Linked DNA regions of Homo sapiens: regions 2, 3 and 4 are each linked to region 1. Evidence: fine-mapped expression QTL. A gene starts in region 1. Each other region holds a variant in brackets. All regions are shown on one strand. Distances are from middle to middle. Region 1 holds the start of SNAI3 (snail family transcriptional repressor 3). Region 2 holds the start of MVD (mevalonate diphosphate decarboxylase). Region 3 overlaps ZC3H18 (zinc finger CCCH-type containing 18). Region 4 overlaps ZFPM1 (zinc finger protein, FOG family member 1).

Region 1 (8,098 bases):
CACTGTGTTAGCCAGAATGGTCTCGATCTCCTGACCTCGTGATCCACCCTCCTTGGCCTCCCAAAGTGCTGGGATCACAGGCGTGAGCCACCGCACCTGGCCCCCCACCCTTTTTTTTTTTTTTTTTTTGAGACAGAGTCTTGCTCTGTCTCCCAGGCTGGAGTGCAGTGGCGTGAAATCGGCTCACTGCAACCTGCAACCTCCACCTCCCAGGTCCAAATGATTTTCCTGCCTCAGACTCCCAAGTAGCTGGGACTACAGGTGTGCGCCACCATGCCTGGCTAATTTTTTTTTTCCCCCAGATGGAGTCTCGCTCTGTCACCCAGGCTGGAGTGCGATGGCACGATCTGGGCTCATTGCAACCTCTGCCTCCCTGGTTCAAGCAATTCTCCTGCCTCAGCCTCCCAAGTAGCTGGGATTACAGGCATGCGCCACCACGCCTGGCTTATTTTTGTATTCTTAGTAGAGACAGGGTTTTACCATGTTGGCCAGGCTGGTCTCGAACTCTTGACCTTGTGATCCGCCTGCATCAGCCTCCCAAAGTACTGGGATTACAGGCATAAGCCACTGCGCCTGGCCTTTTTTTTTTTTTTTTTTTTTGAGCTGGAGTCTCACTCTTGTCGCCCAGGCTGGAGTGCAATGGCGTGATCTCAGCTCACTGCAACCTCCGCCTCCCAGGTTCAAACAATTCTCCTGCCTCAGCCTCCTGATAGCTGGGATTACAGACACCTGCCACCATGCCCAGCTAATTTTTGTATGTTTAGTAGACGCGGGTTTTTGCCACATTGGCCAGACTCGTCTCAAACTCCTGGCCTCAAGGGATCTGCCCACCTCAGCCTCCCAAAGTGCTGGATTACAAGTGTGAGCCACTGCGCCCGGCCTGGGCAAGGGATCTGAATAACTATTTCTCCAAAGACGATACACAAATGGCCAATGAACACATGCAAAGATGCTCAATGCCATCAGGGAAGCCCAAATCGCAATCACAATGAGATGCTCACACCCAGTAGAACTGAAAAAAATTGACAATAACCAGTGCTGTGAGGATGAGGAGGAATAGGGGATTCAAAGGAACGCCTCCCATCTGCCACTCTCTCCTGACCTGACCTCCTCCCACCCTCAGTTTTCCTAATTACAGAGTCATCAGGTTTCTGTCCACCCAGAAGTGACGGCAATGACAGGCTAAGAGGCAGCGTCCAAGAGAGTTCTGGGGAGACAGCACTGGGGGAGCCCCAGGTTTCCCGGCTTTGCTGGGGCCTCTCTGCAGGAAAAAGTCACCATTTCTTTTTTCCATCTCTAAGACATGGCCACCTTTCTGCCTCCAGGTATTGTCACAGAGCCAGGACCCTGTTTGTGGGCCCAGTGGCTGAGCCCAGAGGCAGGACGGGGCAAGAGACAGTCTCGCCCCGTCAGGCTGACCATGTGTTTCTGCTGGGATTTTAAATGCTTTCCCCATACTCTCTGGGTTTTGCTTGCCTTTTTATTCATGCTGCGGTCCAGATCCTGGGGAGAAGACACTGTTTTGTTTTGTTTTGTTTTGAGACAGAGTCTCGCTCTGTCGCCCAGGTTGGAGTGCAGGGGCGCGATCGTGGCTCACTGCAACCTCCATCTCCCGGGTTCAAGTGATTCTCCTACCTCAGCCTCCTGAGTATCTGGGATTATAGGCACCCGCCAGCACACCGGGGTAACTTCTGTATTTTTAGTAGGGACGGGGTTTCGCCATGTTGGCTGGTTTCGAACTCCTGACCTCAAGTGATCTGCCGTCCTCGACCTCCCAAAGTGCTGAGATTACAGGCATGAGCCGCCACACCCAGCTGAAGAGACTGTTTAAGTACCTTGCTGGCTTCAGGGGTTCCCTGGGGAGCCATAGGAGCCATTTATTTAAAAGGAGAGATTGAGGGGCCCCAAATCCCAGCACCTCAGGTCTATCCTGGGGTAACATCTTGGCAGAAAGTTGCCAGGGCCCCCTGGCTGTCAGAAAGCCAGGCAGCTGGGGCTACAGTGAGGAGGGGAGCGGGGGCGGGGAGCAGAGAGCACTGCGGGGCAGCACGGCTACTCACGACAGTTGCCCACTGGGCCCAGCACAGCTACCCAGATTTGCACACTGGGATGGACCCTAAGCAACACTTTGAAACTTGCAACTATTACCCATGTAAATTCCGCACACATGTGTAGTCACATGCGCATCCACATACACATAACAGAAGCCAGTGTCCTTCACCATGAGCCAGGCACTCCGGCAGTTTCTGCTCTATTTTATTTTACAAAATTGCTGGGGGTGACTGATGAAACTGATTTCAAAATGCACATTTGAAAAGCATGGTCCTAGCTGGCACCCCCTGGTGGCAGCCCGGGCCTCGGGTGTGGGTCCAGGTGGGATCCCCCCCATCCCCAACTCTGGGTTCTGAGCTGGGATAAAGGCCTCTTGGCGGTGTTGCTGGGGGCCACAGCCCCAACAGCGCCCTTCCTGCTCTCCCCCACCGGCCACAGAGCGTGAGTCCCGACCACCGCGTCCGCCGGCGCCCCTCAGTGGGCCTTTGTCCCAAGAAGCTGCCAAGCCAGGTGGGGACTGCTCTCACCGCCCGTGTGGCAGGCTGTCCTCTGAAGGACAGAGTCCTCTTCTCTCGTGTCCCTAAGCCTAGCAGGCAGTGGGAATGAACGGGCAGCCCGGTTGCTGGGCACCCATCTCCCCAGCCTAGCCGGTGTGTGGAGGATTGCAGCCCTTTAGCCCAGCCTGCCCAGGCAAGCCTGCCGGGGTGAGCAGGAGGGCTTCTGGGGTGAAGGGAGGTGGGGGAGGGAGGGAGACCACGGGCGGAGGCTCACCTGAACTGAATGCAGGAGGGGCAGTGCCTTTGCACCAGAAAGAGCCCATGTGTCCTTCTCACCATCCCCTGTGCTTACACCCCCAGTCAGCATGCTCCGGGGGTCCCTGAGCCGGGCCGCCCCAGACGGCCCTCCTTCCCTCCCACCCACCACCCCGCGACCCCTCCCAAACGTGTGCGCCAGGAAGATGACTCCAGGGTGCCTTTAGCTGGGGCTGTAGTGGTTGGGACGGGCGGCTGTATATCAGGGGTGAGTTCCAGGGAGACTTGGGGGCTTAGAAAACTTAGAAAACTTCTCCAAGTTGGGAGAGAATCCCGCCCGCCCTGCCGGAGGCGGGGCTCAGTGCCCTGAAGTGGAGGCGCCCGTGGGCCACCTCCCTCCCTGCAGCCGCAGCCGCTGCGCAGAGGCGCTGGCTCCTTCTCCTCCCACCTGGGACAGGTGTCTCCCCAGCCCCCGCTCCCAGGGGCCTCTCTCTCTCTCCCGCCCCTCAGGGTCGAGTCCCGGCAGGGGCTCGGGGATCGGGTAGTCAGTACCTCTCTGCGTCTCCAGCCGCCGGTAGTTGGGGACCCTGTGGCTGGAGTGCGTTTTCACCAGGAAGGAGCGCGGCATGTTCCCCTCCCGGGCGGCAGGCCGGGGTGGGCTGGGGCGGGAGGGGCGCGCCTGGGTCCGGACTGCTGCGTCCGCCGGCGCTTGAAGGGGTCAGGCTCATTAGCATAGCGCGCCGCCTCCGCCAACCAGCGCCCGGCGCGAGTGGGGCGGGGCCACGGGGGCGGAACTGAGGGCGAGGCGGGGTCTCGGGCAACACGCCCAGGACAGGTGCGCGGGCGGGACGGGGCGGGGAGCGCGTGGCCGCCGGTGTCCTCCCCACGGGAATTCTCTGGCGTGCGCGCCGCCGAGTCACACACCGACCCGTCGGGCCTGGCCACCCACTCGCCGTGAGTGAAGGGCAGAGTTCAAAGCTGTGTGGAAACCGAGCGAGAATCTCTTCCACAGAATGTGGAAGCGTCGGCCGAGCGCGGTCCTTGGAGAACCCTTGCTGCGGAGAATGACGCTCACTCTGCGGCCTGGCCTCGCCTCCCCATCCCTTCTGCAAACTCACAGGACAGGATTGATGGGGAGAGCCCAGGCGAAACGAAGCTGACCCTAGTGACCAGCCCTACTGGCGGCTCTGGAACAGGCCCGGGACCGGTGGCCTGGAGACAGTGGTCCTTTCTGGATGGGCTGCAGTCTCCGAAGGCTTCCCCCACTGGAGTCAGCCCTTTAGGAGTTTGTCCAGTGCCTCCAGAAAGCTGTTTTTTGGGGGACGGAGGACTTGGCCTGGAATTCTGGAATTCCCAGGGGGTCAGACATGGTTATGGGAAGTTTAATAAAACCGGTGAATCACGTGAATTCTGCAACAGCTGCACGTGTGACCTGGGCAATCCGTTTCCCTCCTTTGTGGTCCTGTAGAGCCCTCAGGGTCATAAAAAGCTGGGAGCCGCTGTGTCCAGTGTCTGGGTCTCTTTTGACATGGACATTTCATAACGTTGGGGGCCAGGTGGGGCCGTCTCTGGGCTGGCGTGCACACAGGGTGTCCCTGGCTGTGCCGCCGGCCTGCCTCCCCAGCAGGGCTTCCACCTCAGAGCTGGGTGGCCTTTGCCCCCTGTGGGCCGGGGGTGGAGAAGGTGGGGGGTGGTGAGTCCATGGAAGCTCTGAGGGACAGACAGCAGGGAGGAGGGCCGTGCCACACCAGCATCCCACGTCCCACATCACACGTCCAGGGTGTGAAAAGCTGGGCTAGTATCAGCCCCACTTTGCCAATGAAAAAAAACTAGGCTGTGAGTCTGGGCTCAGCAGCTCACGCCTGTAATCCCAGCACTGTGGGAGGCTGAGACAAGAGGACTGCTTGAGCCCAGGAGTTTGAGACCAGCCTGAAAAACAACATGAGACCCCGTCTCTACAAAAAAAAAAAAAAAAATTATTTTAATTAGCCAGGCGTGGCAACACCCATCTTCAGTCCCAGCTACTCAGGACGCTGAGGAGGGAGGATTGCTTGTTGCAGTAGCCTCCAGGAGGTGGAGGCTGCTGTGAGCTATGATGACCCCACTGCACTCCAGTCTGGACAACAGAGCAAGACCCTGTCTCAAAAAATTAAAAAAAAACAAAAAAGAAGACCAAGGCTGTGAGAGGTTAGGACACAGTGGGATTGGGACCCAGCCACACTCCAGCTTGTCTGCCACTTGGTGAGGGGGAGTGGAAGGACAGGTGGAGGTGCCCCTGGAAGAAGGTGCCCGCCTCTCCTGCAAGCATGGCCTGGCACCACCACGCCGGGAGTGTAGATTTCAGAGGACACATGCCTGCCTTCTGCTTATTCACCTGTTCCTCGCCTGGAAAGGTTTCTATTTATAGCCTCCCTTCCTTCTCTCTCTCCCTCGCAGACACAGATAACGCTTGCAGATACCTGAGCCAAGCCTCCACCCACACCGTCCCTCCCCGCCCACCTACCCGTTGTGTGGCCACCCGCCAAGCCCCAGCAAGCTTATCTCCTAATCCCAGCTAGAGCCTGGTGTTACTCAGGGCTGCTGTAGCCCTCCCGAGGAGAATGGCTGATCTCATCCCGGGAACGCCCTAGAGGGCCTGCGAGCACCTTTGGGGTGGGGTCCCAGGGCTGCCGCAACAACTTGCCCCCCAGGGACACTCAAGTCGGCTGCAGACTCACTCTTCAGCTGTGATGCACAGGGCGGTGTCCAGGCTGGACCCAAGAAGGCCCCACAGAGGGAAACATCAGCGTCCCCCTTCCCACAGGTGCAGCCTCGGGGGTGGGGATTGGGGGAGGGCGGCCGTCTCCATCCTTTCCGTGTCTTCCGTTCCTCACTGCCGGCAGCTTGGCTCTGGGGGTTAAACTGACGTGCCCCTGAGTGGGGAAACCCACGGCCCACAGCCTGCTAGACCCGCCCTCCTGAACTGCAGCAGGCGACCCAGGTCCTTGCCCCCTTCCCTGGACATCTAGGACATCAGGATGATGACTTGTGCTGGGCCCGGCAGCCTGGCCCCTCCCATCTGCCTCCATCCGACACCCAAGAGCGGTTTTCCAGTGGGTAGCCCACCCCAAGAATTGCCGGTCAGGGCAAAAACGGTTAGAGTTCCATTTATGTTGACATTTTCATCCTTCCTACACGTATGTCTTCCTGCCTTTCTGGTTTTACAGTGACTGTAACCATAGTGTCTGGAGATGTGCACACAGGTATCCAACACGGTAGACATCTCTGTCACCATTGACTGTTGTTTGTTTTAAGATGGAGTCTCACTCCAACCTCCGCCTCCCAGGTTCAAGCAATTCTCCTGCCTCAGCCTCCCAAGTAGCTGGGATTACACGTGTGCACCACCATGCCAGGCTAATTTTTGTATTTTTACTAGAGACTGGGTTTCACCATGTTGGCTAGGCTAGTCTTGAACTCCTGATCTCAAGTGATCCTCCTGCCTTGGCCTCCCAAAGTGCTGGGATTACAGGCGGGAGCCACTGCTCGTTTTTTACTCATAGGGCTTTATGACCCAAACCTTGGAAACCCTCACTCCGAATTAGAACACAGTCCTTGAGAGCTAGACCAGGAGGGGCTCAGCCCTTGCTACCTGCACAATGCCCGCCTGTGGTCAGGTGCATGCTGGGGGTTCAGCAGGGCTTGTTGAACTGGATGGAAGAGAAGCAGGAGCTTGCAGACAGTGTGGCCTTTCTAGAGGCCCTGCCCCATGCTCTGGGGGCACGTAGGCCCTGTCTGTCTCGAGTGGAGACACTCAGGTGAAGACCCAGGCCCTCAAAGGAGAGTCTGGCAGCTGGGCCTTGCTTGTCCTTGGACTCAGAGAGATGGCCCCTCTTGTAGGAGCAAAGGCAGTTCATCGAGGCAGACATCCCATGCGGAGGCAGACATCGAGGGACAATCCCATGCGGCCCAAGGTCATGGGCCCATGGAAACTTGAACCCAGTGCTTGAAATCTCAACATCCAGCCAGACCGGGCGCCACTGTGTGCTTGGTCCCCCTCCGTGAAGGGGAACTCACTACTGTTTATGGCTGCCCACACCACCGTCTGAGGGCCGGATTGTCAGAGGGAGGGTGGTTTTTTGTTTTTTTGTTTTTTTTTTTGTTTTTAAGACGGAGTCTCACTCTGTCACCCAGACTGGAGTGCAGTGGCGTGATCTTTGCTCACCGTAACCTCCACCTCCTGGGTTCAAGTGATTCTCCTGCCTCAGCCTCCCAAGTAGCTCGGATTACAGGCATGTGCCACCATGCCTGGCTAATTTTTGTATTTTTAGTAGAGACAAGATTTCACCATGTTGGCCAGGCTGGTCTCCAACTCCTGACTTCAGGTGATCCACCTGCCTTGGCCTCCCAAAGTGCTGGGATTACAGGCGTGAGCCACCGCACCTGGCCAGGAAGGGTGGTTCTTAAGCTGGGGTTCAGTGGACACATCCTGTGTGATATGGGGGTTCTGAGAGGCAGACAGGGTTGTTTTCAGAGCCCCCAGCGAAAGTGGCTTTCAGTGCCAGTGCCAGGTGGCTGGCAGCCCTGTGCTCTTGGGAGATGAAGGGGATGGACATGGTATTTGCCGTGTGCCTTTCCCGGGATGTGTCGTTTGCCTGGCAGATGGCCTAATGCCTAGTTGTCTGACCTGCAACCATGAGTCCCCCCAGGAAACTTGCTCACACTGGCAGACGCCCCGTGGCTCCTGTCTGATTCACGTCCAGGTTATGCCTGCCTGACCATCGCTCTGGTGTTGGGAGCCTGCCCTCTGTCCCCCACGTCCCCGAGAAAACCCAGCCTGGGCAGCCCCTGGTTCTTCCTTGTGGAAGGTGCAAATTCAGTCCCCACTGCAGTAGGAAACATGTTCAAAGACTTACTACTCACAGGTCCTGGGCAGGGAGGGCGCCAGGAGTGGGAAGGGCCATCCTCCGTCCCCAGATCCCACAGGGCAGAAGTGAAGAGTCAGGCAGAGAGAAGACAGTGTGTGGTAACGGGCCGTATGCACAGGGAATGGGGAGTGGTCACTGCAGGTTCACAAGCAAATGCCTGAATGGTCTGATTAAAGGAAGTGCAGGGAGTGCGGGCAGCCCAGGCTCCTGGGTGGGAGATACGCCCCTAAGTGCTCATCTCTGGCCCCTGACATGGGCGGTTGAGCGTGGTGTCCTCCTGGTGCCCAGGCTGCAGGCTTGGCTGTGCTGCCCGTTAGAACAGTCCCTACCCACACCAACCGTAAGACACATGAAACTGCACAATGCCTCAGCACAGGCAAGGGAGAGTGA
Region 2 (8,098 bases), 23 kb before region 1:
CTTTCTCAAAAAAAAAAAAAAAGAAAAGAAAAAAAGAAACAGATCCCTCCCACACTCCAGGCTGGAACAGTGCCCCGCCCCCTTTCCCTCCCTGAAGGAGTGGGGACTTTCACCTCCCCAGGAGTCATTGGAGAGCACACGGGAGACTGGACTCCCCTGACCTGCCGGCTCTTGTCAGAGGCCAAGCAGACACTCAGGAATTCCTGAGGGCCTGGTGGGGATGGGACAGCGTTGGTGGGGAGGGGAACCTGGACTTCTGCCTCCTTATCTTGAGCCAGCACCCCCTCCTCCACCAGCGCGCTATCAAAAACCAGCTCAAACGTAAGGTTTAAAGAAGACCAGAGTCTCTGAACGTTACAAGAAAATGGACACGTTTCCATAAATATCACTGTTGGTGAGCCTCAGTGGCTCACACCTACGATCCCAGCACTTTGGGAGGCCGAAGCAGGCAGATCACTTGAGGTCAGGAGTTTAAGACCAGCCTGGCCAATATGGCAAAACCCCGTCTCCACTAAAAGTACAAAAATTAGCCAGGTGTGGTGGCGCACACCTGTAGTCCCAGCTACTCGAGAGGCTGAGGCAGGAGAATCGGTTGAACCCGGGAAGCGGAGGTTGCAGTGAGCCGAGATCACGCCATTGCACTCCAGCCTGGGTGTCGCAGTGACAGTCTGTCTCAAAAAAATAAATATAAAAGTAATACAAATAAATATAAAAATATAAATATAAAATAAATAAATATAAAAAATAAAAATAAAAGGCCAGACGCGGTGGCTCACACCTGTAATCCCAGCACTTTGGGAGGCTGAGGTGGGCAGATCACGAGGTCAGGAGCTTCAGACCAGCCTGGCTAACACGGTGAAACCCCATCTCTACTAAAAATACAAAAATTAGCCAAGTGTGGTGGCACGTGCATGTAGTCCCAAATACTCAGAAGACTAAGGCAGGAGAATTGCTTGAACCCAGGAGGCGGAGGTTACAGTGAGCCAAGATTGTGCCACTGCACTCCAGCCTGGGTGACAGAGCAAGACTCTGTCTCAAAAAAAAAAAAAAAAAAAAAAAAAATAGCAGAAGAGAAAATCCAGAAATAGACCCACACAAACATGCCCAGCTGATTTTTTTTTTTACAAAAGTGCAAAAGCAATTCAATAGAGGAAGGATAGCCTTTCTGGGCTAACTGGACAACCTTGGATCACAGACTTAAATATAAAAGGCAATCCTGTACAACTTGGAGGAAAGCAGACAATCTTCAGGACATAGGGCTAAGCAAAGAGGTCTTAGACTTGACATCAACATTGATACACTGAACTTCTTTAAAATGAAAAACTGGCTCTTTGTTAAGAGGACAAAAAGATTAGCTAGTTTGGGAGACAATACCTGCAAACCACATGTCCAACAGGAGACTAATATCTAGAATACATATTTTATTTTTTTTCAGTAGAGACGGGGGTTTCACCATGTTGGCCAAGCTGGTCTCAAACTCCTGACCTCAGGTGATCCGCCCACCTCAGCCTCCCCAAGTGCTGGGATTACAGGCTTGAGCCAGCGTGCCCAGCCTAGAATGTGTAATGAACTCTCCAAACTTATAGTAAAAAAGCAAACCATCCAGTTCGAGCGTGGACACAGAATATGAAGAGAGATTTCACCAAGAAAACCCACAGATGGCAAATAAGCACAAAGAAAGATGCTCCACGTCACTGGCCAACAGGGAAACGCGAATGAGGACCACAGCACCCTGCCAGCACATCCCTACCAGGACGCGGCTAAAATGAAAAACAGCAACTCCACCAAATGCTGGTGAGGATGCGGAAAATCTGCATCACCGTAGGGATGCAAAATGGCCCAGCCACTCTGAAAAACAATTAGACAGTTTCTTTAAAAAAAAAAAGTATATATATAATATATATATGTATATATACACACACATACATCTATATAGGTGTATACATATACACACACATATATCTATACAGGTGTATATATATATACACACACACAAACATACATATATACATAGAAAGAGAGAGAGAGACAGAGAGGCATATATATATATCTACCATCTGACCCAGCAACCGCACTCCTGGGCATTTATCCCAGAAGAATGGAAATGTATGTTCACACAAAAACCTGTATACAACATTTTATGGCAGCTTTATTGGTAAGGGAAACACAAAAAAATTAGCCAGTCGTGGTGGCGGCTTCTGGAAAGAAAAGAAAGAAAGAAAGAAAACGTTAGATGCTCTTTGCGGGGTGAGGCCTTGGCTAGAGAGAGGGTGGTCCATGGATTCCACGGACTGGCTCAGCAACAGAGGGGCAAAGCACTGATACAATCCCGGGGCACGTCCACATTCTATGCTGAATGAAATAAGCCAAACTCAAAAGATACTGGGTGGGCCACATAACTGCGATTCCAGTTTCAGAACATTTTGAAATGACGTTACAGAAATGAGTGGTCAGTGGCGGCCAGGTAACCCCGGCGCGAGGGGAGGGGCGGGGCTGTGAACGCACAGGTGCGGACCGGCCTCCCCGGCACGGATGTGGGCCTGCGGGCCCCCCATTACCGCTCCTTGGAGGTTACCGCTGGGAGAAACGGGGCGAGGGAGGGACACAGGGTCTCGGGCTGGGGGAGCAGTGGCGCGATTTCCGCTCACTGCAGCCTCGACCTCCCGGGCTCTGGCCATCCTCCCGCCTCAGCCTCCCGAGTAGCTGGAGCCACAAACGCGCACCACCACGGCGGATTCTTACGATTCATGGGAATCGATGATTGATGATTTCGATAGTTCGGTAATCGCTAATGGGCAGGCGCCGGGCGACCCTGCAGGGGCGGCAGCCGTCGCGGGGGAACGGGTGGCGCCGAGCTTGTCACGCGAAGGAGCGCGCGGCCCCGCCCGACCACCGCCGCGCCCCTCCCTGAGCCTCAGTTTCCCCGTCTGTCGAGGCCCTGGGAGGGCAGGACGGAGCGCGCCGCCGAATCAGCGCGCGACCCCCGCGTACCCGGCCTCGCTCCCGGCCATCCCCGTCCCAGGCCGGCCCGCGGCACTCACAGTACTTGATGACCGCGATGTTGACCGGCGCTGTACAAGTGACTGCCGCCAGCGGCTTCTCCGAGGCCATGGTCCCACCGCGCAGTGACCCCAGCTCCACAGCCACTTACGGCCCGCGATCCCACCCCAGAGGCCTCTGCCTCCTCACGCGCTACCACAGGATTGGCCCGTGCGAGCCCGGCTGCTCGCGCGCCGACCAATCAGCGGCGAGTCGGGCGCACGCATTACCTCTCAGCCAATGGACGGGATCGGACGATGGGTTGCTGACGTAGGTCCGCCCCACCCGCAGGGTGCGCTCGCCAGGCCTGGGGCGTGGTGTTGTCTGCGCAGGCGCCGTGTGCCCAGGCGCCTGGCGTCCGCGTCGGCGATCCGGGGTCTGGGCGCGGCGAGGTGGGCGCTGTTGCCTGTGGGGGCTACCTGTCTGCTGGTGCTGTGCGGGCTTGTGCGGGGCTGTGCGGCAGCTGTGTGGGGCCCGTGAGGAGCTGTGCGGGGGGCTGTGCGAAGGGCTGTGTGAGGCGCTGTGCTGGGGGCTGTGCGGAGACCTTGAGGCGCTGTGCGGGGTCCGTGAGGCTCTGTGTGGGGCGCCGTGTGGGAGACTCTGCGGGGGCCGTAAAGGGTCCGTGAGGCGCTGTGTGCGGGTTGTGAGGCGCTGTGCGGGGACCATGAAGGGGCCGTGGGGCGCTGTGCGGGTGCCGTGGGGCGCTGTGTGGGAGGGAGGCTGTGCGGGGCCGTGGGACGGTGTGCGGGGCTGAGGGGAGGGCGGGTCGCGCTGTGCCCTCCTTGAAGCTCTTGGACGGCCCCGCTGGGTATGGGGGTGCACACAGGCCCGAGGGCAGGCGCTGGAGGATGTATCCCGGGATCCACTCTTAACCCGGCAGCCGAAGGCACCCTGTCCCGCCGCCCACAGCCTTCTCCGCGCCATGTCCTGGGCCAGGATCCCCCGCCACGGGGCTCACACGAAAGACCCCGGGGCGGGGAAGCCCCGCAGCCCGGAGCTGGGTCCAACCTGCATTAAGGTGGGCGTCTCAAATACCCCCTGTAAGGCCCTGTAGGAGCAAAGCCTTGGACTGGGTTGCGGCGCTTGTGTGTGCATTGACTTCTCCTGTGAAACGTACAGGAACATTTAAGCGTGCCGTTCCCTGCCATTCATTCCAATCATGTGCCACGCCCCCACTATTTCTAGAGTTTTCTCACCCCAAACAGAAACTCTGTCCCCTTAAAACAATGACTTCCCATTTTCCCCTTCCCCTTTTAAAATTTTACCTTTAGTTTTTAAATAGCTCAGATTGGCTGGGCATGGTGGCTCACACCTGTAATCCCAGCACTTTGGGAGGCCGAGGTGGGCGGATCACGAGGTCAGGAGTTTGAGACCAGCCTGGCCAACATGGTGAAACCCTGTCTCTACTAAAAATACAATAATTAGGTGGGCGTGTGGTGCACGCCTGTAATCCCAGCTACTGGGGAGGCTGAGGCAGGACAATTGCTTGAACTCAGGAGGCGGAAGTTGCAGTGAGCCGAGATGGTGCTGCTGTACTCCAGCCAGGGTGACAGAGCAAGACTCCATCTCAAAAAAAAAAAAA[A/AAAAAAAG]AAAAAAAAAAAACTCAGATTTCGGAAAATAGGGGAGTATGCAGTGTGAAGTGTCCACTCTGCCTAGCCACCTACTTCTATTACCAGAACCATCATACTTATAAATTCTTTATTTTTTTCCAGAAATAGAAAAAAAGTCTGTTTTTTTTCTCACTCTGTTGCTCAGGCTGGAGGGCAGTGGTACGATCAAAGCTCCATGCAGCCTCGACCTCCTGGCTCAAGGGATCTTCCCACCTCAGTTTCCTCAGTAGTTGGGACTACAGGTACACACCACCATGCCCGGCTAATTTTTTTCTTAATTTTTTTGTAGAGATGTGGGGGGGTCTTGCTATGTTGCCCAGGCTGATTTGAAGTCCTGGCCTCAGGGAACCCTCCCATCTCAGTCTTCCAAAGTACTGGGATTAGGTGTGAGCCACTCCACCTGGCCTGTCAATTCTTTGTGTATTTTTTCATTGACGTGCATAGTACAAGCACATAGCGTGTTCTCCCACCTTGCTTTTTCTACGTACCTTCTTCTTAGAGATCATCCCAATTTAGTAAAAAGCTTCCTTGTTTGTTGTCTAAATATACCTGGTCTGTCCTAGTTGGGTTGTTACTATAAACAGTGCTTTCCTACGTTGTTTGTGCACATGTATTTCTGCAGGAGAAATTCCTGGAAGTGGAATTGCTGGGCCAAGTGGGATGTGCCTGAGTACTTTTGATAGCTGTTGGCAAGTCGCCCTTTGTGGAAGTCAATTGATTACTCAGGTCTCTCTGCGGAAGTCTGAGAGTGCCTGCATGCCTTCACCAGCACAGTGGGTCACCTGCCAGAGTGACATGTGTTGTCTCACTGTTTTCAATTTGCATTTCAGATGGTGGTTATTTTTAATTTCTCTTGCAATCACAGCTGCTTTTCCATTTTATGCAAAGCCACTAAATCCTATTGAAGAGCTGATGTGGACTGTCTCGGCCTATAGTCAGGGTGTATTCCCTCAGCTACTCAGAGAGAGTGGGGCTTCCAGTCACCTCCTTCCTTCTGCCACGGCTGTGATGAAAAAGAAGACACAGGCTTGGTGCTTTGGGAGGCCAAGGAGGGCAGATTGTTTAAGTCCAGTAGAAAAAAAAACAATTTATTTTTGTTTAGAGACAGGGTCTCACTCTGTTGTCCAGGCTGGAGTGCGATGGCACCATCAGCTCACAGCAGCCTCAACCTCCTGGGCTCAGGTGATCCTCCCACTTCAGCCTCCCAAGTAGCTGTGATAAGTGCCACCACTCCTGACTAATTTTTATTTTTTATTTTGTAGAGATGGAGGTCTTACTGTGTTGCCCAGGCTGCTCTTTTTTTTTTTTTTAGACAGAGTCTCGCTGTGTCACCCAGGCTGGAGTGCAGGGGGGCAATCATAGCTCACTGCAACTTCTGCCTCCTGGTTTCAAGTGATTCTCATGCCTCAGCCTCCCAAGTAGCTGGGATTACAAGCGTGCACCAGCAGGCCCGGCAAATTTTTGTATTTTTAGTAGAGACGGGGTTTCGCCATGTTTGGCCAGGCTGGTCTCAGACTCCTTGCCTCAAGTGATACGCCTGCCTCGGCCTCCCAAAGCACTGGGATTACAGGCGTGAGCCACCATGCCTGGCGTTTTTATTATTATTATTTTTTTTTTTTTTTTTGAGACAGAGTCTCGGTCTGTCACCCAGGCTGGAGTGCAGTGGCGTGATCTCGGCTCACTGCAACCTCCGCCTCCCACGTTCACGCCATTCTCCTGCCTCAGCCTCCCAAGTAGCTGGGACTACAGGCGCCCACCACCACGACCGGCTACTTTTTTTTGTTATTTTTAGTAGAGACGGGGTTTCACTGTGTTAGCCAGGATGGTCTCGATCTCCTGACCTTGTGATCCGCCCGCCTCAGCCTCCCAAAGTGCTGCGATTGCAGGCGTGAGCCACTGTGCCTGGCCCTATTTTTTTAAGTTTTAGATAACCTCTATTGATTATGACTCAATAGAAATAAGGAATTCTCTTCCATCTCCCAGTCACATACCTTCTTATCCTATCCCTCCATCAGCATTCCTTATTTTCATTATTACAATTATCTAAGTTATACTCACAGTTGAGCCATGTAGCAATGGGTGCCGACAGTGTGCTTGTGGGCAGACTCCCTTATTGAGTGGAGAACTAGGATAAACTACCTCCCTGAAAGATGTCACACATCGATCCCCACCCTGACGCCTGTAGCCCAGCTCTCCTGAACCTCAGCCTGTATGTGTGTCGAAAATAGGCCAAGCATGGTGGTCCATGCCTGTAAGCCCAGCAGCACTTTGGGATTTGGGAGGACTGCTTGAGGCCTGGAGTTCAAGACCAGTCTGGGCAACATAGCGAGACTCCACCATATCCACAAAAAAAAAATTTTTTTTTTTTTTTTTTTTAAGACACAGTCTTGTTCCATTGCCCAGGCTGGAGTGCAGTGGTGCAATCTCGGCTCACTGCAACCTCCGCCTCCCAGGCTCACTGCAACGTCCGCCTCCCAGGCTCACTGCAACCTCCGCCTCCCAGGCTCAAGTGATTCTCCTGCCTCAGCCTCCCAAGTAGTTGGGACTCCAGGTGTGTACCACCACACCCAGCTAATTTTTTTGTATTTTTAGTAGAGACGGGGTTTCACCATGTTAGCCAGGATGGTCATGGTCTCGATCTCCTGACCTCGTGATCCACCCGCCTAGGCCTCCCAAAGTGCTGGGATTACAGACATGAGCCACCGCATCCAGCCTACAAAAAAATTTTTTCAAAATTAGCTGGCCGTAGTGGTGCACACCTGTACTCCCAGCTACTAGAGAGGCTAAAGCAGGATGATCGCTTGAGCCCAGGAGTTCAAAGCTTCAGTGAGCTCTGATCACACCACCGCACCTGAGCCACAGGCATGGGTGCTTTGCTGAGTATGGTATGGGTAGGCTGTGTGTGGCACTGATTCATGAGGGGAGAGGGTCTGGGAGATGAATGGGAAGCCAGACAGCTGGAGCCCGTGGGTGGGCCCTGACTGGTGTTGGGGCAAGGAGGGGAAGCCCAGCCAGGGCTGAGCATGTCCTGCCTGGTTCCAGGCCTGCAGCCCTGGGGGTTTGGCCTGGACAGGCCAGCAGAGGGGCCCCGAGCACAGCCTGCACAGCATCCTACTGCTGATCCCCGGGGCTTCCTGCGTCCTGGCGCTTCCTGTCCTTTCCCCAAGCCCAGGCATCTGGGACTTTAAAAAGTCAGAAAGCAACTGGAAAGGAAGGCATGTGTCTAGCTTGCTCTATATCTGCCTTGCATTGGGAGGCCTTCAGTGGGAATGTTTTTCTGGAAGCAGTCAGCAAATGTGAAACACCATGAAGCCAGGCGATTGGAGAGGTAAAAAGAAGCGAGGACTCAGGGAATATGGGCATTTTAAAAATAATAATTTAAATTAAAAAAAGACAAGGAAATGTTTATTCCAGAGGAGTTAACAATTTGATACTTTTTTTTAACTTTTATTTTAG
Region 3 (8,098 bases), 75 kb before region 1:
TTATCAAGTCTCTGGGTTTTTCATGTATAGTATCATATCATTTTGCAAATCTGAGCTCGTTTTGCTCCTTGTTTTCGTGTTCTTGTGCCTCTAGTGGGCTCCCCTTGTCCAGTCAGGGGGTGCCTCCACACAGGGACAGGTGGTTGCGGAGACTCCTGGGGGAGCTCCTCCTATTCCCCAGTGAGTAAGGTGCTGACTTTTGTTCCAAAGTGTGTCAGTATATTTTTATCATGCTAAAGTATCACTTCCTATTTTCTTTCCTTTTTTTTTTTTCTTATTTAATTTTCAAGACGGAGTTTCACTCTTGTTGCCCAGGCCGGAGTGCAATGGCACAGTCTCGGCTCATGGCAACCTCCACCTCCTGGGTTCAAGTGATTCTCCTGCCTCAGCCTCCTGAGTAGCTGGGATTACAGGCATGTGCCACCACGCCCAACTAATTTTGTATTTTTAGTAGAGAAGGGGTTTCTCCATGTTGGTCAGGCTGCTCTCAAACTCCTGACCTCAGGTGATCCACCTGCCTCGGCCTCCCACGGTGCTGGGATTACAGGCATGAGCCACCACACCTGGCCCTCACTTCCTATTTTCTTGAGTATTTTTTATCAAAAAGGCTATTGAATTTTTGTTAGACATTTTTATCATCTGTGAATAGAACCCTTTGACTTCTGGCCTGCTCTTAGATGTAGTTTGTGAACAGATTTCCTAACCTTGAGCCAACCTTGCGCTCCTGGAGTAAACCCCACTGCGTCACGGTCTGTTACTTTCTGTCCCTAATGTTTCGTGTGGTCTTTTTACGCCAGTGCTCCTAAGTGATGAGAGTTCTTTTTCATTGGCCCTTTTCAGACTCGAGCCTTACGCAGACCCTTATTATGACTATGAAATTGAGCGGTTTTGGCGTGGCGGACAGTATGAGAATTTCAGGGTGCAGTATACAGAAACAGAGCCGTATCATAATTACCGAGTAAGTATGACTTCAATATCCACATATGAACTTCATGATCTGTTCATTCAAGTTATCCCTTTTTATTTACAGTAAAAAATACAGGGCTTTATATGAGCTTATAGAGCCAGCACAATGTACCAATTTGAAAACCAAATTGATTGTTACGGAGAACGAATTCAGAGGCAGCGATTACATTAATGGTCATTTGAACAAAGACTTGCCTGAAAACTGGTTCTTGCTATGGTTTTGTTTTTTTGTGTGGTGTTTGTTTGTTTGTTTTTTGAGATAGGGTCCCACTCTGTCACCCAGGCTGGAGTGCAGCGGTGCAATCTCGGCTCACTGCAACCTCTACCTCCTGGGTTCAAATGATTCTCCATCCTCAGCCTCCCGAGTAGCTGGGACCACACGCATGCACCACCATGCCCAGCTAATTTTTTTGTATTTTTTTTGTAGAGACGGGGTTTTACCATGTTGTCCAGGCTGGTTTTGAACTCCTGAGCTCAAGCAATCCGCCTGCTTTAGCCTCCCAGAGTGCTGGGATTAAAGACATGAGCCACTGCGCCCGGCCTGGGTTGTTTGTTTTGGAGACGGAGTTTAACTCTGTCACCCAGGCTGGAGTTCAGTGGCGTGATCTCACCTCACTGCAACCTCTGCCTCCCAGATTCAAGCAATTCTCCTGCCTCAGCCTCCTGAGTAGCTGGGATTACAGGTGCCCACCATCACACCTGGCTAATTTTTTGTATTTTTAGTAGAGACAGGGTTTTGCCGTGTTGGTCAGGCTGGTCTCAAACTTCCGATCTCAGGTGATCTGCCTATCTCAGCCTCCCAAAGTGCTGGGATTACAGGCATAAGTCACTGTGCCCAGCTCGGCCTGGTTTTGAAAATGAGATTTGCCAGTATACTTACTGATGCCTGTGTCCAGGGGTGCCTGCGTCTCCCTGCTCGGGCGTGTCACTCTTCCCCACCCCTCAGTGATCCCGTTTAGGATGTGGCGCCTGTTCTGGTCCACTTCAGCCAGCTTGTTAAGTCTGTTCCGGGCCTGCTGCACCTCACTGCTCTCATGGAAGACTGGTCTATACTGAGATTTCCGCCCTGGAAATCTCCCTGGTCTGAGCCTCAGAGTTTAGCATATTGATGAGTTATGTGCTTCAGACTGTGAGTTCCTCATCTTAGCTGTTAGGGTGATTTGACGAAGTTGCCCCAGGGAAGGGTCAGTTAGAAGCTGCTGTGTAGTTCTGTTCTGTGACTGCAGGGACAGTCATGAGCTTTGAGGACCAGGTGCGGCTGTCTCCTCAGGAGCCCATCAGGGTGAGCTTGCAGAGGGAAGAGGGCCCCATCGTGCCAGAAAAGTCCCCCTGCTCGATGCTCTTGTGCCCCGTCTCTCCATAAAGCAGCTTCCTCATTGCAGGTGGGCTGCAGGGTCCTGCTGCTTACCCCTGGGCAGGGTACCCTGGAAGGTGGGAGAAAGCCCCAGGGATCCCTTTCCACTGCGTTCCTCTCTGCTGTGTCCGAGGGAGGGGCAGCAGGGAGGCTCGGGGTGCACCCTGCATCTCCCCAACAGAGGCCTCAAGCCTGAAACCCATCAGGTGCGTTGTGATTGGACTTTATTCAGTTTTAACCTTGAATATTAGAGCAAATGAATGAGTAAGAGCAGAGGAAAAGTTGGAAAGGGCATCCGAGGATTGTACTAGAAGAAGAGGAGCAGTCTTTTGGGTGCCTGCTCTGCTCCAGAGGCAGGGCATGTGCTCTGCTGTGGCTGCACCTACCTGGGACAAGCCTGGAACTCCCGTCTCTGGATGGACAAATGGACTTGCCCAGGCCACACGGCGGAAGGCCATCTGTGCCAACGACACCGGGCTGTGACTGCAGAATTGCTGCCCTGAGTTAGTCTAGAATTGGTGGTTGGGATGATTTCACTCCTAGTTTGTGTTTGCTCTAATTTGGCATCTGACCCGGTTTTTAACATTGTGTTTTAAGGAGAGAGCTGGGAATGAGATGAGATCCCCACTTGAGGGTGCTCCCTGATCCTGCCTCTCTCTTGCCATCTCCTCTGTACTCCACCGCAGAGAGTTCAATCATAGTCGGGAGCACTTGGCGTTTTGTGTGTAGGTTTGTGGGGTACAGGTGTGATTCTGTGACACAGACAGATCGCGTGGTGTTGGAGCCAAGGCTTTCAGTGCCTCTGTCACCCAAATAACGCACGGTGTCCCCATGTGTTTGGCTTTTTAACAAAGGAAAGGGAGCGGGAGCGAGAGAGAGAGAACAGACAGCGCGAGCG[CGAGCGG/C]GAGCGGGAGCGGGACCGAGAGCGGGAGCGCCGGCAGAGGGAGCGCGAGCGAGAGCGGGAGCGCGAGCGCGACAAGGAGCGGCAGCGGAGGAAGGAGGAGTGGGAGCGTGAGCGAGCCAAGCGGGACGAGAAGGACCGGCAGCACCGTGACCGCGACCGGGAGAAGGAGCGGGAGAAGGAGAAGGGGAAGCCCAAGCCCCGCTCCCCGCAGCCGCCAAGGTAGACCCTGCTTCCTGAAGCCCAGGGGTGTGGGGGAGGTCCGGCATGCAGCTCTGTACCTAGTCCCCCTGGCCTGCGCTTCCCCTCTGTGGCCCACAGCTCTGGAGCCCAGGGGACCAGTGCAGGCCCACAGCCCGAGCCCATAGTTCCAAACCCAGAGCTCTCCAACGCAGGGCCTTTCTGTAAAACTCCCAAGGCCGTGACATCTGCCCTGAGCTCCTGGGAGGCTGTTCTCATTCTAGAGGATCTCACTGATGTGAAAATGCTTACAGTCCACGTGCAAACATCGGTGTGTTTTAATAGGCGCTGCCCTTGTATACCACGCACGGTGTGTAACTCACACCCTGGGCACCATGTTACTGTTCTCAGGAGAGTTCTGAATTCCAAAGCATGCCTGGCCCCCAGAGCTTGGGACTGGGCTCAGGTGCTGTGGGGCATCCGTGTTGCTGGCCAGGGTGAGGCACTCTAGCAGCCAGCATGCAGGGGAGGGCCGGGCGGGCTGCTGTTTTTCCTTTGCGGAGTGGGTGCCTTGGGTGCAGAATGATCCTTGCTGCCAACTGCTGGGGGCACAGTCAAGACCCATGAGACAGGCAGGCGCTGGGGCTCAGGACAGCCCTTTTTTTCTCTCAAATATACTTGACTGTTAGAGCAGAATGGATGGGCGTCAGTGGACATTAGAGTACTGGATGATGTTTTTGGTGGGTGTTTTTTACAACTTTATTGAAATATAATTAATGGACGCTGCAACATACCCATTTAAAGTGTACAATCAGTGGTTTCTAGAATATTCACAGAGTTGTGCAGCCATCATCGCAATCAACATGAGAGCACTTTTGCCCCCTAAAGTGAAACCTTGCGGTGGCTCACACTTGCACCCTGCACTTTGGGAGGCTGAGGCAGGTGGATTGCTTGAAGCCAGGAGTTTGAGACCAGCCTGGGTAGCAAAGCAAGACTCCATCTCTATTTAAAAAAAAAAAAAAAAAATTAAAAATTAGCTGGGGGAGGTGGCATGAGCCTGTGGTCCCAGCTACTCGGGAGGCCAAGGCAGGAGGATTACAGGATCGCCCAGGTGTTGGAGGCTGCCATGAGCTACAATCGCACGGCTGCACTCCAGCCTGGATGACAAAGTGAGACCCTGTATCTAAAAAAAAAAAAAAATTAAAAATTGTTTTAAAAAAATCTAGGCTGGGCACGGTGGCTCACTCTTGTAATCTCAGCACTTTGGGCGGCCGGGATGGACAGATTGCTTGAGCTCAGGAATTGAGATCAGCCTGGGCAACATGGCAAAATCCCGTCTCTACAAAAAAATACAAAATATTAGCAGGGCGTGGTAGTGCACCACTGTGGTCCCAGCTACTCGGGAGGCTAATACGGGAGGATCACTTAAGCCCAGAAGGTTGAGGTTGCAGTGAGCTGAGATTGCACCACTGCACTCTAGCCTGGGTAATAGAGCAAGATTCTGTCTCAAAATAAAAAGAAGAAACATTGTACCCATCAGCAGTCACTCTCCATTTTCCCCACACTTCCCAGTCTCTTAGCAGCTTTGTGTCTCTAGGTATCTGCCCATTCAGAACGTTTTGTAGAAACGGAAGTGTGCAATACACAGCGTTTTGTAACTGGCCTCTTCTACTCCGAGCGTTTTTAACATTTGTCCACGTTGTAGCGTGGGTCAGTGCTTTATTCCTCCATGGATGCACCGCATTGCATTTCTCTGTTCGTCTGTTGATGGACGTTGGGTTGTTTCCAGCTTTTGGCTGTTGTGGTTGTGAATTTGTGTGCAAGTTTTTGTGTGGACATAGGTTTCCATTTTTCTTGAGCATATACCTCAGTGTGGAATTGCTAGATCACATGGTCACTCTATGTTTAGCTGTTTGAGAAACCCTCAAACTGTTGTGCAGAGCAGCTGCACCTTTTACATTCCCGCTAGCCGCATAGGAGGGCGCCATCTCTCTGCATCCTTGTCTGCACTTGCTGCGGTCCGTCTTGTTGATGACAGCCGTCTTGGTGGGTGTGACGTCTCCCTGCCGTTGCGATTTGTATTTCTCTGATGATGGATGATAATGAGAGCATCTTCTTCTGTGCTTATCAACCATTTGTATATCTTCTTTGGAGAAACGCCTATTCAGATCCTTTGCTCATTTTTTGTTTTTTATTATTGAGTGGTAAGAGTCCTTTATGTATTCCAGATACAAGTCCCTTATCAGGTTCATGATGTGCAGTTCCAATTAATGTTTTCTATTTTGTTGCTTATGGTTTTGGTGTCATGTAAGATACCATTGACTAATACAGGGTCATAAAGATTTACTGCCGTGTTCTCTTCTAAGAGTTTCATAGTTTTAGCTCTTACACATAGGTCTTTGATCCAGGCTGGGTGACAGAGAGAGACCCTGTCTCAAAAAAAGGGGGGGTGTCGATGAGAGCATGAACGTTGCTCCGTCTCAGGGTTGGTTTGTGTCACCGTCCCCGTGGGGGTGAAATGCAAGGAGGGATCAAGGCAGTTCCTTATTGGGAAACAGCCCGAGATCCTTCCAGGGCCATGGCCTGCAGGACTTCCCAGTCAGGAGTCTGTACTTCCAACTCAGGGATGTTGTTTGACTTGGCTCTCATAAAAATCCACATTTGGGCCTACACCTTCCAGTAACACTGGACTCCGCTAGACCTGCAGGCATGGGCAGCTTCGTGGCTGGAGCCACACAGTGGCCACACTTGGAGGGGCCACAGTTCTCATGCTCCCCTCAGAGACCTGGCAGCCATCAGGACCTGCGACTGTGGCTCTGGAAGGATTTGCTTTCCACCACGGGACAAAAACAAGCCCCTTGTCCTCCTCATCTTGTCCGTGTGGCTGGACGACACCCGCTCTTGTGTACAGTGGAACACAAGTCATCTACGCTTTTCTGAAAGTCAGCTCTCAGGCAGGACTTCGCAGGCCTTTGTTTCAGGGTCACTCATGGCTGTAGCTGCTGCTTAGCCGGTGGCAAGTGCCAGTTTTGACTGTTTTCATTCTCCAGCTCACAGTGAATGGACTTCCCTAAATGTGCTGTATTTGTCATACTTTCCTAACACTAGGCAAAGTAATCTTCTTAAAGAACATTCAGAATAAGTGACATATTTCAGATGTTTTTAATCCTTTTATGTTACAGTAATCTCTAAGTTATTTTGAAGTTTACATGGTCATCCAAACGGGGAAACCGTCATTGACCTTGACATTGTGCCGCCTTCTTCAGCCTTTCAAGCCCTTTTGGATAGAAGCCCTTCCCCTACAGCACACACAGTATTTTCAGTGTGCACTCAGCCTAAGGCTGCCTTCTCCCCTGAGACCCCACTGCAAAGGTGCAGCCCAGCACCCCGTGCACACACCCCCAGCCGCTCCCTCTGCCCAGATGGGCTGCCCCCATTTCCTCCATTCCGTCTGCCTGGACGGGCTGCCCCACCTCCTGTTCCCTCTGCCCAGATGGGCTGCCCCCACCTCCTCCATTCCCTCTGCGTTTGACAGGCTGCCCCCACCTGCTCCGTTCCCTCTGCCTGGACGGGCTGCCCCCACCTGCTCCGTTCCCTCTGCCTGGACGGGCTGCCCCCACCTGCTCCGTTCCCTCTGCCTGGACGGGCTGCCCCCACCTCCTCCATTCCCTCTGCCTTTGACAGGCTGCCCCCACCTCCTCCGTTCCCTCTGCCTTTGACAGGCTGCCCCCACCTCCTCCGTTCCCTCTGCCCGGACGGGCTGCCTCTACCTCCTCCAGGGTTTTGCTCAGATTCCTCTGCACAGGGAAGTCTCCCCATCCCCTCCTGCTTGCCAGCCTGCTTTCTTGTTCCTCATGGCCCTCAGTGCCCATCTGGAGCCCTTGCAGCAGATGGTCCTGGGGCACCACCGTCTGCCCTGCTCCCCGTTGCAGCCTCTGTGCCTGTCCCAGAGTCCCGCACAGGTTGGTGCTTACCCACATTTGGGGGTGCTGTCCGTGAGTTTTGGATTTGGTATCAGCCTGCATTTTTACCTGCATGTCATAATTGATTGTTACAGGGTTGCTAAAATTGCACATTGATTTCTACAAACAGAACCAGCTGAGTCTGCTTTCCAGATTCACAAAATAGGGGTTTTCACGCCACCCAGATCATTGGTTTTAGAAGCAGAGACATAGAAAGGCAGTGATATCCACGTGGAAGGTCACTGTGCTGTGTGGCTCTGGGTTTATGAGTCCGTCAGCATGTCCACTTTGGTGGCTTATGGGCACACGTGCCTGGCCACAGACCCCCTTCCCCAGCCCCTAGTCATGTATTCTGCCTGTTTCTAAGCAGCCGGGGGCTCTTCCCAGTCAGGAGTCTGTAATTCCAACTCAGGGATGTTTTCTGTGTACAAGAATGTACTTCTGGAGTACGCGTTAGAGGGCCGCCATGCCTAAGGTTGCTGTGTTCCTCTGCTGTGGCCCGCACTTTAGTGACCCGCGGAATGGGAGGGCAGATTCCCGACTGCTGTGCCCGTCTCCTGTGTGCTCAGCCTCCCCAGAGGAAAGCGGGTGACGGATCCCAGGAGGCTTGGAGAGGGTAACTCTGCCAGCATGGCCACCAGGCAGCAGGTTGCCATCGCCAGCCCCTGAGCCCTCAGCTTCACAGAGGAGTCTTACATTCAGGAAGGGACTGGGAGGTGCTCAGACGTTGTCTGG
Region 4 (8,098 bases), 150 kb before region 1:
GCCCACAGGTGTCTGCCACAGCTGTGGCTTCATCTCCACCACAAGGGACATCCTCTACAGCCACTTGGTCACCAACCACATGGTCTGCCAGCCTGGCTCCAAGGGTGAGATCTACTCGCCAGGGGCCGGACACCCAGCAACCAAGCTGCCCCCAGGTGAGCAGCCCTGTGGGGGCCACCCCTGCCCCTTAGGCCCCCTGAGCAGTGGGAAGGGAGTGGGCTTGTCGCCCAAGACAGGTGGGGGTCCGTTTCAGCCTTCGCTCTAAACCACTCCCGCCCACCCCTCCCCTTCCGGAGCTCGCCCTCCAGCTCTGACCGGCCAGGTCCTGCCCCAGGCCTGAGGTGCCACCCCTGCGATCTCTCTGCAGACAGTCTGGGCAGCTTCCAGCAGCAGCACACGGCCCTGCAAGGCCCCCTGGCCTCCGCGGACCTGGGCCTGGCGCCCACCCCATCGCCAGGACTGGACAGAAAGGCCCTGGCCGAGGCCACCAACGGAGAGGCCAGAGCGGAGCCTCTGGCCCAGAATGGAGGCAGCAGCGAGCCCCCGGCGGCCCCCAGGAGCATCAAGGTGGAGGCGGTGGAGGAGCCGGAGGCGGCCCCCATCCTGGGCCCCGGAGAGCCTGGGCCCCAGGCCCCGTCGCGGACGCCGTCGCCGCGCAGCCCCGCCCCGGCCAGGGTCAAGGCCGAGCTGTCCAGCCCCACGCCGGGCTCCAGCCCGGTGCCCGGCGAGCTGGGCCTGGCCGGGGCCCTGTTCCTTCCGCAGTACGTGTTCGGGCCCGACGCGGCGCCCCCCGCCTCGGAGATCCTGGCCAAGATGTCCGAGCTGGTGCACAGCCGGCTGCAGCAGGGCGCGGGCGCGGGCGCCGGCGGCGCGCAGACCGGGCTCTTCCCCGGGGCCCCCAAGGGCGCTACGTGCTTCGAGTGCGAGATCACCTTCAGCAACGTCAACAACTACTACGTGCACAAGCGCCTCTACTGTTCAGGCCGCCGTGCGCCCGAGGACGCGCCTGCCGCGCGCAGGCCCAAGGCGCCCCCCGGCCCGGCCCGCGCGCCCCCCGGCCAGCCCGCCGAACCCGACGCGCCGCGCTCGTCCCCGGGCCCCGGAGCGCGCGAGGAGGGGGCTGGGGGCGCGGCCACGCCCGAGGACGGCGCGGGCGGCCGGGGCAGCGAGGGCAGCCAGAGCCCGGGTAGCTCCGTGGACGACGCGGAGGACGACCCCAGCCGCACGCTGTGCGAGGCCTGCAACATCCGCTTCAGCCGCCACGAGACCTACACCGTGCACAAGCGGTACTACTGCGCCTCGCGCCACGACCCGCCGCCGCGCCGACCGGCCGCGCCCCCGGGACCCCCTGGGCCGGCCGCGCCCCCGGCCCCCTCTCCCGCCGCGCCTGTGCGCACGCGCAGACGCCGCAAGCTCTACGAGCTGCACGCGGCCGGCGCCCCGCCCCCCCCGCCGCCCGGCCACGCCCCCGCGCCCGAGTCGCCGCGGCCCGGAAGCGGAAGCGGAAGCGGCCCCGGCCTCGCCCCTGCGCGCTCGCCCGGCCCCGCGGCCGACGGCCCCATCGACCTGAGCAAGAAGCCGCGGCGCCCGCTCCCCGGAGCCCCGGCACCGGCGCTGGCCGACTACCACGAGTGCACGGCCTGCCGCGTGAGCTTCCACAGCCTCGAGGCCTACCTGGCGCACAAGAAGTACTCGTGCCCCGCTGCGCCACCGCCCGGCGCGCTCGGCCTGCCCGCCGCCGCCTGCCCCTACTGCCCCCCGAACGGCCCGGTGCGCGGGGACCTGCTGGAGCATTTCCGCCTGGCGCACGGCCTGCTGCTCGGCGCGCCCCTGGCCGGCCCGGGGGTCGAGGCCCGGACGCCGGCCGACCGCGGCCCCTCGCCCGCTCCCGCCCCCGCCGCCTCCCCGCAGCCCGGGTCCCGTGGCCCCCGGGACGGCCTCGGCCCGGAGCCCCAGGAGCCGCCGCCCGGCCCGCCCCCGTCCCCGGCCGCCGCGCCCGAGGCCGTGCCGCCCCCGCCGGCGCCCCCCTCCTACTCGGACAAGGGCGTCCAGACTCCCAGCAAGGGCACGCCGGCGCCGCTGCCCAACGGCAACCACCGGTACTGCCGTCTTTGCAACATCAAGTTCAGCAGCCTGTCCACCTTCATCGCCCACAAGAAGTATTACTGCTCCTCGCACGCCGCCGAGCACGTGAAGTGAGCGCCCACACTACAGCCGCAGACGCTTTGCACGCCCCGCTGCGATGCGGGGAGGGGGCCGCCCCCAGGCCGCACGGACTGCCGCTCCTGGGAACCCCGCCACGCACAGGCCTCGGCGGAGGGGGCCGCAGGGGGCAGCGCCCGCCTGGACCCTTGGCACTTAATAAAGAAGTTCAGTTTGATGAGCATGGTGGTGGGCCAGCCTAGTTCTCTGAGCCAGCAGGCACACGCAGCCAGTGTCACATCCAGCCCTGCTGTGTACACAGGCCACTGCGGCCCGGAGTGGCTGGGCCCCTGCCGGAGTTACACCACTGGGTGCTAAGAGCTAGACCGAGCGTCAGGTCGGAGGCCACAGCACACACTGAACCACTGCAGGGCCAGCCGCTCTGGGCCTACCCCACCCCAGCCCTGTCCATACCCCCCTAGGGAGAGCAGCCTCCACACTGCTGACCCTCTCCACGGTCTACTTGGCCGCCAGACACGGAAGAGAGGGGCACTGACCTGGCTGGCCATCCCCCAACCCTGCATGGTCCTGGGGGTCCGATGTCCCCCATCCAGTCACAGACCACCAGGGATGGCAGGGGTGGGGGCGCCCTGGGGAGGATGAAGCCCTGTGGTGGCCAAGGCTGGGGGAAGAACAGGCGAGTAGGTGGACAGGAGAGGGAGACCGAGGCCGAAGCATTCCCTGGCCTCGAGGGGGTCCTGATGCTCACTGGTGGGTGCATCTCTCCCTCAGAGCCAGGGCTGAGGACAACCGTGTGGTGGAGTCACCTGTGGTGGCTGAGTCGGTGCAAGGGTCAGGGCACCCCCACCCCCCGTCTTCCCTGCCCTGCTGGGCTGTATGGGCCGGCCACACTGAGGGAGTACTTGGCTGACCGCGTTCAGCCACGGTGTCACCGTGCCGTTTGCAGCTGGGTGGCTGTGGGCAGCCTCCAGCGTGCTTTCTCACTGGAGAACAAAAACACTCTTCTATTCCCAACGTCACTTTATTTTTTTATTTTTGGGTCTCACTCTCTTGCCCAGGCTGGAGTCCCTGGGATACTCACGGCTCATTGCAGCCTTGACCTCGTGAGCTCAAGTGATCTTCCCACCTCAGTTTCCTCAGTAGCTGGGGCTACAGGTGTACACCACCATGCCCAGCTAGTTTTTGTGTTTTTTGTAGAAATGGTGTCTCCCTATGTTGCCCAGGCTGGGCAACCCTATATTTTTTAGAGCTAAGGTCTTGTTCGGTTCCCCAGGCTGAAGTTCAGTGGCACGATCATAAGTCACTGCAGCCTCAAACTCCTGAGCTGAAACCATCTTCCTGCCTCAGCCTCCCAAGTAGCTGGGACTACAGGCTTGACCCACCACACCTGGCTAACTTTTAAAACATTTTTATAGAGACAGGGTCTTCCTGTGTTGCCCAAGATGGTCTCAAACTCCTGACCTCCAGTGCTCCTGCAGCCTCAGCCTCCCAGAACATTAGGATGACAGGCGCGAGCTACCATTCCCAGCCCATTTCCAACTCTACTTGAACTAGCTGCATTTTTTTCAGCTTTGCCCAGCAGCCCTGGTGAGTGCAGGCAAAGAAGGCAGCGGCCTCTTGCCTCAGAAGCCCGAGGCACTTCCCAGCCAGTCCAGGGCTCGCTCTCCTGCCCGCAGCTCGTGGGCCTGGGTCTGCAGCGCTTTCAGTGGTCTCTGATGTCTTTGTCCACCTGCCCACTAGGGTCTGGCCAGATGGGGCCCGTAGCCAAGGCCAATGGACAGACATGGCTTCCACCCCCTCCCAGGGACCTGAGCTCCAGGGAAGGCAAGCAGCCTTTTCCTCACAGACACCCCTTCTGTTGAAGACCAGGTGATAGCGGGGACGGGAGGCACGGACCCCTCAAGTCTGCTCATCATTTGCATTGTTGTGCATGAATTTGCGTGGAGGGTTCAGGAGGCTCTGCCCCCAAGTCCTCCCCAGGTGCGGGCGCAGGGTACAAGATGTTCTAAAAAATAGAAACCTGGTGGGGGGTTGTCACTGTGTGTACATTTAAAAGTAAACTGTTTAAAGGTGTCTAGAAACTACGAATACAGTCTCTGGTGAGTGACAGGTGCTCAAAGGGGGTAAAAAACACAACTCCAGTGTCCTCACCCCCTTTGAGCCCCACCCCAAACCTGACCAAGCGAGGCCCTGGAATGCAAGACGCAGAGGAGAATCTGGAAGACAGCCCAGCAGTGCCGCACAAACCCGCCATGCACCCAGACGTGCCTCAGTGTCCACACCTGTGCCGCAGGAGTGGGAGTTCGGGCCTGGCAACCCTTCCTGGGGGCTCATCTCAGAGGCAGCAAGGACCCTGTGACCGGGACCCAGACCTGAAGTCACCCCAGAGGGCCCC[G/A]CCACGGCCCGGACTCGAAGCTTAGGGCAGCACACTGAGCCTCACGAAGGGCCCTGCGCCTGTCCTGGCTTGCATAACCCCCTACTGTCCCCACCATGCAGGGCTGGGTACCGCTGCCATCGCCCGTCCCAGGTCATTGGCGTGTGGCCAGAGCCCGTCCCCATCGCACCCAGGACTCGCCTCGGGCACGCGTCTTCTGCACAGACCCTGGGGCCCCCACACCTGGCAGACGCCATCAGTCACCCCTACTCCCTCAAGCCATCACCCCAGTCTCCCCCCACCAGACCACCGCCTGGGCCTCCACCCTGTGCCTCCCCTGTAGCCGCTGACTCGGTGGTGGCCCAGGCCTTCTCCCGCCTCTCCCCAGGAAGCTGCCTGCCCTGCTCACAGACACCCCCTCGGCCCCCCAGCTGGTTCTCTGCTGAGCCAGGTTCAAGGCTCTGAGTCTGCCCTGGTCTCCCCTTGAAGTTCTCCCTCCACACTCCTGGGGTGGGCTCATGGTCTTCTCTCCACTAATTCTGTAGTCTAGCCACGCCTCCCCTGAGCCCCAGACCTGCAGACCTACAGCCCCTGTGTCCTTCCAGGCCCTTGATGTACCATGAGTGACTGTAACCCCACGCACCTGTAACTTCTGCCCACACCTGTGCAGGTGTTCCCCTCCCCCAAGCCCACCTGTCTCCCCACACCAGTGCAAGCACCCCCCTGGCTCACTGTCTCCTCCCCTCACCTGCACAGGCATCACCCCGAGCCCACCTGTCTCCCCACCAGCCCACCTGTCTCCTCCCCTCACCTGCATAGGCATCCTCAGTGGCCCCCTGCCCCTCAAGCTGGAGAGCATCAGCCTTGCCTATTCACCCTTCATTGTCAAAGCAATGCTTGATTTGTCCAAATCCCACCGCTTCCCAAACCCATCCACCATCGCCGACTCCCAGACCTGGGACTTCACCCTTGAGTCTCTCTGAACAGCCGCTTCCAAATCTCGAGGGTCCACTCCTCACACAGCTGCCACCGCTCCCCTCTCCCAGGCTCACCCTGCTCTGAGGCCCGTCCCCGCCCCCAGGTGCCTGTGCTTCGCGTAAAACCCCTTCTGTTACTGGCCCCATCCTTCAGAGGTCAGAAGTCCCCCTTCTCTGCCTCAGCACAGAGGAGAGGAGCCTCCCGTTGGCGGCCTGTCCCGACGGCAGCCCCTGGCCCTGCTAAGCCCACCACCCGCTGGGCTCCATGCTGCAGCTGGTTGCTCCAGGCAGTGCCTCCTGATGCCCTCTCTACTCCTCCGAGGCTGTCCTTGTCATCCAGCTCTCAGCTTAGGTGCCCCCTCAGACCTGTCCCTGGCTCACTTCCCGCGTAGGAACGGTCACTCTGCACCTCTGTCCCCAGCTCGCTCCCGTGTAGGAATGGTCACTCTGCACCTCTGTCCCCAGCTCACTCCCACGTAGGAACGGTCACTCTGCATCTCTGTCCTCTTGCCCGTCGCCTACTGGCCTGTCTCCTTTGAAAGCTGGGGCTGCGCCTGCTTGACCTCTGCCTCCCAGGCACCCACAAGTGGCCGACACAGAGGAGGGGTCTGCATCTGTTGAAGTCACAGGGGTGTGTGTGGACCACAGCCAGCCCCTCCCCATGCCCAGCAGTCAGTCCAACTGTCACAGCCCACTTTCCAGCCACACTGTCCACTCATGGCACACGGCCACCGTCACAGCCCACTCTCCAATCACACTGTCCACTGAGTCCCATGTGTGACCTGAGCTTCTTGGATCTCGGACCGCTGCATTCCAAGCTGCTCTCTCCCCACTCCTCCCCCCTCCCCACTCCCCCCAGCTTTGCCTGTGAAACTCCTTCTCTCCTCAAGACTGGCTTAAAAGGTCCCCCTCAGGGCCACCCAGCCAGGCTGTACCCGTCCCCTGCCCTGCACAGGATGGGCCTCCCGCCTCCACCCTCCTTCTTCCAGGAGGGCACCTGCTCCCTTCTACCTGAGCTGCATACAGCTCAAAGCCCCTTGCAGGCTGGCAACTCCCAGGCAGGGTCAGCCCAGCCTGCCGGGAGTCCCTCACGCTACTTGGGACACAACGTCCACGAGATGATGCAGGGCAGCCTCGCCCTCCTGAGGCCCCTTCCTCTGCCAGGCACAGGGTCTGTCCTCTCAGCCACACCATGGGCTGAGTGCCCTGACTGTGCACGAGGGCCCCAAGGTTCCATCGGGACACACCTCCTGCCCAGGCACCTGGCGGGCACAGCTGGGCCAGGACACATCCCTCTGCTGGCTTCCAGCACTCGGTTCTCGACCACCAGCCGTACTGCTGGGCACTGGCTCCCAGCCACGCCCTGGCTTACAGAAAGCTCAGGCCTAGCAGAAGCCCACCCCAGCCTGCCTGAGGAAGGGTGGGAGTGGAGAGGGCCCCCACTGCCGGCCCTGTCTCCCACACCAGGACACCAACATGCAGAGCAGGACATCACCTGTGGCTGGGGGGCTGCGTGAGCTGGCAACCGTCGGATGGGTCTGCTCTGAAAACCGGTCCCCACCTGTCCCCCGCAAGCCGACCCCTCGGGAGAGCCCAGCTTTGGAGTCTCAGGCAGAGCCTCAGGACGCCAGGAGGCAGCAAAGCCGTTGCACTCTGGCCTGCCCTGTATCTGCCGGGGCCTTGCAGAGGGGGAGGGAGGAAGATTGGGAGGAGGCAGCCTCACCCCCTCAACACCCAACCCCCTCCTCCTTGGAGGTGCCAGGGAGAGGTGAAGAGAAGAGCAAACCATGCAGCTGTGGACAGAACTCGCCTCGGGACCTCGGGCTGGGAGTGTCTCAGAGGTGAGCCAGGCAGGGGCAGGGAGGGTCGGGAGCTCCGGGCAGAGGTTAGGGTTAGGGCGGGACGCATGGAGGAGGGAGGCGCAGAGCAGGAGGTCTCGCAGCTTTTCGGAAGCGCATCCATTTCCACAGCGAGGGAAGGAGCAGGGGAGGTGACTGGCCACCCGGGAGGAGCTTGGCCACCAGACAGCCAGGTGGCCTGGACCTGGCGAGAGTGGCGAACCCGGCAGAATCCCAACCTCACAGGGCTGTTCCAGGCTGCTTCCAACACGACCCTGGAGGCACATCCTCTGATGCTGTCCTTGGGCAGGGAGCAGGGGGCTCCCAGGCACGGTGACTTGCCCAGGGTCACAGGAGTGACCACCAAGATGCAAGGGAAATACACAGCCTGAGCCCTGCCTTGCACACGGCGGCCCTCGCACCAGCACGGCCTCCCCATCTGGCACCCTCAGAGCCCCTCTGTCCCCTCAGAGCCCCAGGCCTCCCCAGCACTGCCCACAGACCTGCAGCAGCTTCTGTCTGGCTGCTTCCCTCCCTGCCGGCCAGGGCCTGGGAATCTGCATTTAACCAGCTCCCAGCAGTTTGCTCTCTGGCACGTGTGAGACCTGCACTCACAGCAGGTGCCCAGACCGTGGGCGCCGACCTCACTAGCTCACCAGCAGGAGCACACACAGCCCTGCTCACCAGGCCTTCGTCAGCTGAGGCAGGGGCGGGGCAGGGAGAGAGCTGGACCCAGATCTCTGCCC

What was found. PIP is the estimated chance that this variant, and not a neighbour inherited with it, causes the effect.
Region 2: its variant is fine-mapped to the expression of SNAI3 in whole blood (INTERVAL, PIP above 0.99).
Region 3: its variant is fine-mapped to the expression of SNAI3 in whole blood (INTERVAL, PIP above 0.99).
Region 4: its variant is fine-mapped to the expression of SNAI3 in whole blood (INTERVAL, PIP above 0.99).

Annotation. Positions count from the first base shown.
Region 1 is chr16:88,682,975-88,691,072 of GRCh38, forward strand. It overlaps SNAI3 (snail family transcriptional repressor 3), which reads right to left and starts at 3,533. Exons shown (of 3, transcript NM_178310.4): 1 at 3,357-3,533. The coding sequence starts at 3,432. It overlaps SNAI3-AS1 (SNAI3 antisense RNA 1), which reads left to right. Exons shown (of 4, transcript NR_024399.1): 4 at 3,817-4,212. RefSeq lists silencers at 3,144-3,303, 3,354-3,813, 6,726-6,900.
Region 2 is chr16:88,659,970-88,668,067 of GRCh38, forward strand. MVD (mevalonate diphosphate decarboxylase) reads right to left here and starts at 3,122. Exons shown (of 10, transcript NM_002461.3): 1 at 3,042-3,122. The coding sequence starts at 3,111. It overlaps SNAI3-AS1 (SNAI3 antisense RNA 1), which reads left to right and starts at 3,404. Exons shown (of 4, transcript NR_024399.1): 1 at 3,404-3,431. RefSeq lists silencers at 2,867-3,286, 3,627-3,786 and an enhancer at 3,367-3,416. The variant A/AAAAAAAG (reference allele first, on the strand shown) is at 4,622.
Region 3 is chr16:88,608,094-88,616,191 of GRCh38, forward strand. ZC3H18 (zinc finger CCCH-type containing 18) reads left to right here. Exons shown (of 18, transcript NM_144604.4): 7 at 841-958; 8 at 3,175-3,443. Among named protein-coding and RNA genes, the nearest start is that of IL17C, 26 kb to the right of the region's middle. RefSeq lists an enhancer at 2,052-2,997. The variant CGAGCGG/C (reference allele first, on the strand shown) is at 3,219.
Region 4 is chr16:88,532,781-88,540,878 of GRCh38, forward strand. It overlaps ZFPM1 (zinc finger protein, FOG family member 1), which reads left to right. Exons shown (of 10, transcript NM_153813.3): 9 at 9-155; 10 at 368-4,251. The coding sequence ends at 2,199. Among named protein-coding and RNA genes, the nearest start is that of ZFPM1-AS1, 5.8 kb to the left of the region's middle. RefSeq lists enhancers at 644-1,204, 1,205-1,766, 6,914-7,516 and a silencer at 1,408-1,867. The variant G/A (reference allele first, on the strand shown) is at 4,559.